Homo sapiens: one gene and its partner. The protein of the gene in region 1 purifies or fractionates together with the protein of each later gene. This does not show direct contact. Each region holds a gene or a part of one and is shown in the gene's direction. Other genes may lie near its edges.

The links. Proteins that work in one complex are often made in the same cells at the same time.
Region 2: the proteins of ZNF254 (region 1) and TRIM24 purify together in Homo sapiens (affinity purification with mass spectrometry; 2 studies listed by BioGRID and IntAct, with this or other methods). This does not show direct contact.

The regions. Positions count from the first base shown.
Region 1 is NC_000019.10:24,089,030-24,094,343, forward strand, and holds part of ZNF254 (zinc finger protein 254), read left to right. Parts: intron 1-2,871; exon of another isoform or gene 2,872-2,986; intron 2,987-5,314. UniProt on the Homo sapiens protein: May be involved in transcriptional regulation.
Region 2 is NC_000007.14:138,566,962-138,572,275, forward strand, and holds part of TRIM24 (transcription intermediary factor 1-alpha), read left to right. Parts: intron 1-519; coding exon 520-693; intron 694-3,868; coding exon 3,869-4,042; intron 4,043-5,314. UniProt on the Homo sapiens protein: Transcriptional coactivator that interacts with numerous nuclear receptors and coactivators and modulates the transcription of target genes.

The DNA.
Region 1 (5,314 bases):
GCAATGGCACGATCTCGGCTCACCGCAACCTCCGCCTCCCAGGTTTAAGCGATTCTCCTGCCTCAGCCTCCCTAGTAACTGGGATTATAGGCATGTGCCACCATGCCTGGCTAATTTTGTGTTTTTAGTAAAGACAGGGTTTCTCCATGTTGGTCAGGCTGGTCTCAAACTCCCGACCTCGGGTGATACGCCCGCCTTGGCCTCCGAAAGTGCTGGGATTACAGGCGTGAGCCACTGCACCCGGCCAATTAATCATTTTTTGACAAAGCATTTGATGGCACATTTAAAAAGGTTTGTTTTCTTTTTGTAAATATTTCCTATGAGAAGAAAGCAAAGAATAATCTCCTGACACTGTATTGTAAAATATCTCTGCGTTTTTTTTTCTTCTATCTTCCCTAGTCACAGATATCTTATCAGAATGTTTTTGGGTCAAGTTTTCCTTTTGGAAACTATAGTGTGATGTGTCTTCAGTCACCATTCGGTTTTCTTGGACCTGGGTTTCAGTACTGTATTGGGATAAACGAAGATACCCACCATGGCTATGTCTGCTTAGAGTGTCTAGTAAATATCAGCTTCTGGGTCATATTCTCTCATAGGAAAATCTGAGGTATTGAGTGTAGCGTCCCAAGTGCGCAGGTGGATGCCCTGAGTCTAAAAGGCATTTCCTAGTGCACTTTTTTTTTTAAAGCTAATTTTATGAGACATTAATATTGTCTTCACCCAACCCAGCTTTCATTTCTTAAAGACACATTGCTGGTCAGTCAATCAGATACCAGTATTGAGGAGAAAACAAATAATTTCTGCCTCCTGGTTTCCTTTAGAGAACAGAAAAATAGTAAAAAATTTCTAGAAAACAAAACAAAACAAAACAAAAACGAGGGCCAGGCATGGTGGCTCATGCCTGTAATCCCTACACTTTGGGAGGCCAAGGAGGGTGGATCACGAAGTCAGGAGTTCGAGACCAGCTGGCCAACATGGTGAAACCCCATCTCTACTAAAAATACGAAAAAAAAAAAAAAAAAGCTGGGTGTAGTGGTACAGGCCTGTAATCGCAGCTACTCAGGAGGCTAAGGCAGGAGAATCAGTTGAACCTCAGAGGCGGAGGTTGCAGTGAGTGGATATCACGCCACTGCACTCCAGCCTGGGCGACAGAGTGAGACTCCATTTCAAAAACAAAAACAAACCGCAAAAAACTGACCCCAGTGAGATGGTGTAAGAACTTGCAGAGTAAAATGCGCCTGAGACACTCACTGGGGCATAGTTCAGAGTCTCCTGAGAGGGGGTTATTGAGCACTTTAGTGAGTAGGATGGGGTGGGACAGTCTCTCAAGTAATTGGATGGCCTGACTTGACACATGATTAAGACATATCTGTGTCTTGAAAAGGTTTTTTCACTTATTTTGACCTAAGGCTTGTTTTCGTTGTCTTGAGACAGTTTCCCTCTGTCACCCAGGCTGGAGCGCAGTGGTACCATCTCGGTCCACTGCAACCTCCAGATCTTGAGTTCAGGTGATTCTCATGCCTCAGCCTCCCAAGTAGCTGGGACTACAGGTGTGCACCACCACACTCAGCTAGTTTCTGTAGTTTTAGTAGAGACAGAGTTTCACCATGTTAGCTAGGCTGTTCTCAAACTTCTGGCCTCAAGTGACTCACCTGCCTGAGCCTTCCAAAGTGCTGAGATTACAGGCGTGAGCCATTGTGCCCAGCTCACCTCGGTTTTTTAACTGTGTATTGCATTTTATTAGTAGAGCTTGAAAGGTAAGAAAATATTTGCAAAGGGCATAAAAGAGGTGAGTTTCAAAAACATTAATATCTAATAATATATTTTATTTGTTGAACATTTTCATTTACCTTTTTCTTTCTCAGAGTGAGTTTAGGAAGTTTCTCGGACATGTTTTTTTTTATGGAGGAGTGATTTTTTTTTTTTTTTTTTTTTTTGAGACAGAGTCTCACTCTGTCGCCCAGGCTGGAGTGCAGTGGCGCCACTTTGGCTCACTGCAACTTCTGCCTCCCGGGTTCGAGCAATTCTCCTGCCTCAGCCTCCTGCGTAGCTGGGATTTCAGGCACACACCACCACACCTAGCTAATTTTTGTATTTTTAGTAGAGACAGGGTTTCACCATGTTAGGCTGGTCTTGAACTCCTGACCTCGGGTGATCCGCCCGCCTGGGCCTCCCAAAGTGCTGGGATTACAGGCATCAACCACCGTGCTTGGCCTATGGCTGAGTGATTTCAAACAGAATTCCATCTAGCTTTTAGAATGGTAGCTACCAAGGAAAAAAATAAAGAAAAAAAAAAAAAAATCTCTCTTCAATTTCAGCTGTAGACAATGAATACATTTCCACAAAACAATGTGATAGATAATTGATGAGTTAAATAGATTCCTGAAAACTTCAATTCCTTTTTTTAGCAGGGTAAATCCTTGGTAGTGAACATCTTTGTTCTATATCCTGTGTTTTTTTGTGTGTTTGATTGTTTTTTGAGATAAAGAGTTGCACTGCGACACCCAGGCTGGAGTGCAATGGTGCAATCTTAGCTCACTGCAACCTCCAATTCCCAGGTTCAAGTGATTCTCCTTCCTCAGCCTCCGGAGTAGCTGAGACTGCAGGCCTGTGCCACCACACCTGGCTAGTTTTTGTATTTTTAGTAGAGATGGGGTTTCACCATGTTGGCCAGGCTGGTCTCGAACTCCTGACCTCAAGTGATCTGCCCACCTCAGCCTCCCATAGTGCTGGGATTACAGGTGTGAGCCACTGCGCCCAGCCCTATATCCTGTTATTTTGATTTTTGAGTTTAATGCTAAATTTTATGTGATGAAACTTGGTACCTCCTAGAAGTGTTCCTATGTGATTAATTTTTTTTTTTTTTTTGAGATGGAGTCTCGCTCTGTTGGCCAAGCTGGAGTGCAGAGGCGCAATCTCAGCTCACTGCAAGCTCTGTCTCCCGGGTTCACGCCGTTCTCAGCCTCTCGAGCAGCTGGAACTACAGGTGCCCGCTACCACGCCCAGCTAATTTTTTGTATTTTTAGTAGAAACAGGATTTCACCATGTTGGCCAGGATGGTCTCGATCTCTTGACCTCGTGATCCACCCACCTCGGCCTCCCAAAGTGCTGGGATTACAGGCATGAGCCACTGTGCCTGGCCTTTTTTTTTTTTTTAAATGGAATTTTGATGTTGTTGCCCTGAGTGGAGTGCAGTGGGCGATCTCGGCTCACCTCAACCTACACCTCCTGGGTTCAAGCAATTCTCCTGCTTCAGCCTCTCGAATAGCTGGGATTACAGGCACCCACCACCACCATGCCCAGCTAATTTTTGTATTTTTAGTAGAGATGGGGTTTTATCATGTTGGCCAGGCTGGTCTTGAACTCCTGACCTCAGGTGATCCACCCTCCCCCCCGGCCTCCCAAAGTGCTGGGATTACAGGTGTGAGCCATCACGCTGGGCCAAGCAATCCTCTTGTACCTCAGCCTTCCACGTACCTGGGACTACAGGCATGCACCACCATACCTAGGTAATTTTTGTTTTTGTATTTTTTTAGAGATGGGATTTTTCCATGTTGCTCAGGCTGGTCTCAAACTCCTGAGCTCAGGCAATCCACCTGCCTTGGCCTCTCAGAGTGCTGGGATTACAGGCATGAGCCATTGTGCCTGATCATACCATATTTTCTTTATTCAGTCTACCATTGATAGGCATTCAAGTCGATTCCATGTCTTTGCTATTGTGAATAGTGCTGTAGTGAACACCCTTGTGCATGTGTGTTTATGACAGAATAATTTATATTTCTTTGGGTATATACCCAATTATTAGGTTGCTTGATGAAATGGTAATTCTGTTTTTAGTTCTGTGAGAAATTGCCACACTGCTTTTTACAATGGTTGAATTAATGTACACTTTAACAGCAGTGTATAAGCGTTCCCTTTTCTCTGCAACCTTGACATCATCTATTTTTTTGCTTTTTAATAGCCGTTCTCACTGGCATGAGATTGTATCTCGTGGTTTTTCTTTGCATTTCTCCAATAATTATTGATAGGCATTTTATTATATGTGTGTTAGCCACATGTTTGTCTTCTTTTGAAAAGCATCTTTTTCAAGTTTTTTGTCTGCTTTTTAGTGAGGTCTTTTTTTTCTTGTAAACTTAAGATTTTTATGAATTCTGGACATTAGACCTTTGTTAGAAGCATAGTTTGCAAATATTTCCTATTATTCTGTTGGTTCTCTGTTTTCTGTGTTGATAGTTTCCTTTGCTGTGAAGAAGCTCTTTAGTTTAATTAGGTCCAATTTGTCAATTTTTGGTTTTTTTGCAGTTGCTTTTTGTATCTTCAATTATGAATTCTCTGCTAGATTCTATGTCTAGAATGACATTTCCTAAGTTATCTTCCAGGGTTTTTTATAATGTTAAAATAAACATTTCAGTCTTTAATCTTGAGTTGATTTTTGTATATGGTGTAATAAAGGGGTCCAGTTTCAATCTTCTACATAGTGCTTGCTAGTTATTCCACCACCATTTATTACATAGGGAATTGGTTCCACATTTCTATTGTCACCTTTGTTAAAGATCAGATGGTTGTAGGTGAGTGACATTATTTCTGGACTGTCTATTCTGTTGCATTGGTCTATGAGTTTGTTTTTGTACCAGTTCCATGTTGCTTTGTTTACTGCAGCTCTGTAGTATAATTTGAAGACAGGTAATGTAATGCCTTCAGCTTTGCTGTTTTTGCTTGTGATTACCTTGGCTATTCAGACTCTTTGGTTTTATATGAATTTTACAATAATTTTTTTTTTTAGTTCTTTTAAAAATATTTTGGTCATTTGATTAGAATAGCATTAAATCTGTAAATTTTGGGGGGCAGTATGATCATTTTTAGGATATTGATCTTTTCTATTTATGAGCATAAAGTTGTTTTCCATTTGTGCCATTTCTGACTTCTTTAAGCATTGTTTTGCAATTCTTATAGAGATCTTTCACCTTCCTGGTATTCGTAGATATTTTATTCTTTTTGTGGCAGTTGTGAAGGGATTGTGTTTATGATTCGTATTTGGCTTGGATGTTGTTGATTTACAGGGACGCTACTAATTTTTGTACACTTACTTTGTATCCTGAAATGATACTGCAGTTGTTTGTAAGTTAAAGAGCTTTTCTATGAAGACTATATGGTTTTCCAGATGGAGAATTATGTTGTCTGCAAACAGGGATAGTTTGACTTCCTCTCTTCCTGTTTAAATGCCTTTTATTTATTTTTATTTTTATTTTTTTGAGATGGAGTCTTGCTCTTCGCCCAGGCTGGAGTGAAGTGGCAGTCTTGGCTCACCGCAAAC
Region 2 (5,314 bases), on another chromosome or scaffold:
TTTCTTATCTATAAAATAGAAATAATCTGTGCTTTATAATAATATTGCTAAGAATAAATTAGTGAATACATGTGAAGCATTTAAAGCAGTACCTGGCATTTAATAACTGCTCAATAAGTGTTAGCAGTTATTATTCTACCATCACTTTATTTTTAGGAGGTTTCAAAAGGGTAGTTCTTTGTGAAAGATAATTGTGAAGGACTTAGAAGGATACCAAAGACACATTTTATTTACTTCCCAACATGGCCTAGGTCCAATTCTGGTACAATCTACTTACAAAATCTAGGTGGCAATCCCTCTCCCAAGGTTCTTTCCTAGTAAGGTTCTTTTAAAAAAGTTGTTTACACAAATTCTGAAAGTCTGCCCATCCCCCACCCCTCATTCCCTTATGTAAATCTTAATAATTGATTGATCTGTGGCAGAGTTCTATTTTTCTGTAAAAGTTTTATAAGATAGAGATTTATAATTTGTTTTTCAGAAGAAGATTGTTACTAAATTGGTTTAATTTCTTTTTTCTAGCAACCGCCTCCACGTTTGATAAACTTTCAGAATCACAGCCCCAAACCCAATGGACCAGTTCTTCCTCCTCATCCTCAACAACTGAGATATCCACCAAACCAGAACATACCACGACAAGCAATAAAGCCAAACCCCCTACAGATGGCTTTCTTGGCTCAACAAGCCATAAAACAGGTATATATCTACCTTCTTTTCTCAATTGCTTTTTCTGCTGCTTTCTACTTTCAAATCACAAAGAATTTACAGATTAAGCAACAGGTTATAAAGAGCCAAGAGCAAGCCTTCTTTTTCATTTTTTAAATAAATGTGAATTGCAAAGTTTGATGCTTTTTATCAGTAAGAGAAATTAAACCACTTATGTAGAAGTGATGGCCCAATATAATCAATGACCATAGGTATTAATTTTTATAATATGGTATGGATAACTTTTAGGTGAGTATATTAAATTTCCTAAGATAAAAGTATTCTAACAAATACAAGTTACATTCCACAAAATAGAACAATAAATGAATCTTTGAAGCGTCTCAAGAAGATTTCTTGGAAACAAAATTATGGCACAGTTTCAAGAGGGAATACATATATATCTGATGAAGTTTAATATTTAATTCATATTTAATATGATACAGCTTATTTATTTTTATTTTTTTATTTTTTTTGAGACAGAGTCTCTCTCTGTTGCCTAGGCTGGAGTGCAGTGGCGCAATCTGGGCTAACTGCAAACTCTGCCTCCTGGGTTCACACCATTTCTCCTGCCTCAGCCTCCTGAGTAGCTGAGACTACAGGTACTCGCCACCACGCCCAGCTAATTTTTTTTGTATTTTTAGTAGAGACTGGGTTTCACCGTGTTAGCCAGGATGGTCTCAATCTCCTAAACTCGTAAGCCACCGTACCTGGCCTCCTTTTTTTTTTTTTTTTTTTTTTTTTTTTTTAAAGTCTCTCTCTGTCACTCAGGCTAGAGTACAGTGGCATGATCTCAGCTCACTGCAACCTCTGCCTTCCGGGTTCAAGCAATTTTCCTGCCTCAGCCTCCAGAGTAGCTGGGATTACAGGCGCCCACTACCATGCCTGGCTAATTTTTGTATTTTTAGTAGAGACAGGGTTTCACCATGTTGGCCAGGCTAGTCTCGAACTCCTGGCCTCAAGTGATATGCCCGCCTCAGCCTCCCAAAGTGCTGGGATTACAGGTGTGGGCCACCATACCCGGCTGTATTATTTATATACTTAGTGTCTTCAGGTAAAAATATTTTCTGTGTTTTACATTATCTTAAAGTTATCACAGTGTTTTTTCTTCTCAAAGCTCCTATGACAACAGCCTGTCTAGCTGATTGTAGACTGATTTTGGTTTCTCCAAGACCAAAATAAAGATGATGCAATTTTCATAATTCTATAACATCCATTTTAATAAAATCATTTTAATATTTTATTCTAAAAGTATGTACACTCTGTGTCTATACATATCTTCGTATAATCAATTTGCCTTTGCTATATCATCACCAAATTCTCTTAAACAATATTTTAATTATTTAAAATAAAATTCATACCTATTATTTCATCATTAGAAGGAAAGTAAAAAGGACCCAAGCTTCAGTTTGGCCTTAAATTCTACTTATTTTCCTAATAATTTTGTGGCACTTACGTAGTCTTTTCGCATCTCCCTTGCCTCAGCTATAAAATGCGTATCTTGCAGAGTTATGTTGAGAGTTTATTCTAATGTATATACAAGCACCTAGCACATGCTCAGTATTCAAATGTTTACCTCTTCCCTATTTATTGTATTTTAATGAGTAGATACTCTAAGCATGTTTTTTTAAAATGGTTGTTGACCAAAAATGTAAACATGAATGAATAAGTAAAGGAACAAGCCAGGAAAAAATCTACTGGGAAATTGCTTTTAAGTAGTAGATGAGTTTAACAAATTAGAGTATACTCATACAGTGGAATACTTTTCAGATATTAAGAAAATGCAGTAATCTAGATATGATTTTCTGAGTACGTGAGGAAAAGCATGTTATAGAATTTTTGTGAGGTGTTATCTCATTTGTATGTGTGTTTTCCTCCAGCCTCATCATGTACATAGAAAAAAACCTGAAACGATCCACCAACTGATTGTTCTTGGTAGAGGAGGAGGAAAGGGGGCATAGAGGTGGGGAATATGAGGGAGGAGTAGGTGGTAAAGAAGACATTCATGTCCAACTTCATATGTTTCTGTATGTAGTTTCTACAATGGAATATATAAATTAGGTTTTTCAAAATTGGAATGTTTCAGACATTTTATATAGTGCTGTTCATTTGTGAATGACCATGTTTGGAAAATACGGCATCTTGCAGTACACTTAGTTACTTTCCTTCTTCCAGCATGAAAATTTTCAAACATAATAAAAATTGAAAGAATTATATAGGGAACATTTTGTTCTACTTGCCTTATTACATGTTTATCTATTCCTTTGTCCATTCATCAAGTCATCCTTTTTTTTTTTTTTTTTGAGGCAGAATCTCTCTCTCTGTAGCCCAGGCTGGAGTGCACTGGTGCAATCTTGGCTCACTGCAACCTCTGCCTCCTGGGTTCCAGTGATTCTCCTGCCACAGCCTCCCAAGTAGCTGGGATTACAGGTGCCCACCACCACGCCCGGTTAATTTTTGTGTTTTAGTAGAGATGGAGTTTCACCATGTTGGCCAGGGTGGTCTTGAACTCTTGACCTCAAGTTATCCACCCACCTTGGGCTCCCAAAGTGCTGCGATTACAGGCATGAGCCACCATGCCCAGCCCATCATGTTTTTCAATAGGTTTTGAGTAAATTCCAGACAGCAGCATGCTTCACCTCTATATACTTCAGCATGCCTATCATCATCTTAATGTGTTTATCTCAGCAGGAATGATAGTACTTTCCTCAGATATTTATCGAGGCCTAATTATCTGTTCATATATGAGAAGAGGAATATAAAATCCTGAAAGTACCAGTCTGTAGCTTAGTATTTTCAAGTATTTCAGATAGGGATAGAAGAAATGTATGTTTTCAACCCTCCATCTTTACCTTGAAGTTGCTATGTATATATTTACATTTTTTTTCCAATATGTATAAACCTGCCAAGATTGGGTACTGTGATTTTCTGGTATATACTAACTGTTGTCTTCCAGTAAAAATCAGTGCTTTTTACTGTTTTGGTTTTTTTTTTTTTTTGACAAGATTAATGAAAATTATATATACTTGTGCAGTCTTTTGCTGTCCCATTCTCCTTCCATGTAAATTACAGTTGAACTCTTCTACTTCATTTTGTGTGAGTGATTACATAGATGTTGTATTTTATAAGCTTGTTGATAGCCTTTGTTCTTCTCTTCTTGTTACTGTAGTGGCAGATCAGCAGTGGACAGGGAACCCCATCAACTACCAACAGCACATCCTCTACTCCTTCCAGCCCCACGATTACTAGTGCAGCAGGATATGATGGAAAGGCTTTTGGTTCACCTATGATCGATTTGAGCTCACCAGTGGGAGGGTCTTATAATCTTCCCTCTCTTCCGGATGTAAGTAGACACAAAATTTATACTAGCCTCTGTTGAAAACTGTTGGCCGGGTGCAGTGGCTCACTCCTGTAATCCCAGCACTTTGGGAGGCTGAGGCAGACAGATTACTTGAGGTCAGGAGTTCGAGACTAGCCTGGCCAACATGGTGAAACCCCGTCTCTACCAAAAAATACAAAAATTAACCAGGCATGATAGCACACGCCTGTAATCCCAGCTACTTGGGAGGCGGAGGCTGTGGTGAGCTGAGATCATGCCACTGCACTCTAGCCTAACAGAGCGAGACCCTGTCTCAACAAAGAAAGAAAATTGTTAGTGAATTTGGATCTGGTAGAAGGCATGAATTTGTTGGATTATAGGTTGTTTGTTTTTACAAGTTAATTTTAATCCTTTAGAATATTACAACAGTAGTAAAAATAAAAAGATTATGAACATTGGACACATAATCTAATGTCTTTCAAGCCACCGGAGTTAAAGGTGTTTGTAAATGAGTGATTATGGTGATGGATCATGGAATCTAAGCTGGGAAAGGAGAAAAGTAAGGACATGGAAAGATATGCTGGGACGTTGAATGGCTGGACATCAGAAGAGATGAAGACAAGTTTAATAATAGAAATCCTGTTAGATCATACTGACAAGTGCAAAATTACCTCTGGTTTATACTACATGTAAATTAACTCACTCTCCAAACTCTTTGTCAGTATGACTTTTTGTTATTTATTATATTTTTAAATGATTTTTATTTTTAATAGAGATGGGGGAGACGCCCTATGTTACCCAGGCTGGTCTTGAACTCCTGGGCTGAAGGGATCCTCCTGCCTTGGCCTCCTAAAGTGCTGGGATTACAGGCATGAGCCACTACACCCAGCCAGTATGACTATTCCAAAGGCAGAAAGTCTGCATTCTGTAGACAGATCTCCATATATAAGTTGATTCTGTGTTTGATCCTTTTTTTAATCTAAAGTTAGATAACCTACTGTCGTGCACATATACATACGCACCTAATGTTAAGAAGCTTTTAGGAAATATCTTGTACTCTTTACTTGGATCAAATTACCTATAAGATTGTGAAAATAACTTTTTTATTTTCATTATTTGTTTTTCAAGTTGAGATCAATTAATATTTCCTAATAGTTGCATTGTTAATCTTACCAGAGTCATTCCATTTTTAAAATAGTTTTGTATACTTTAAATGAGTAGAATACATATATTTTCTCATGCATGGATGGTTCATAGGAAAACTTACATCTAATCCCCATAGTTTTATTTGGCTTT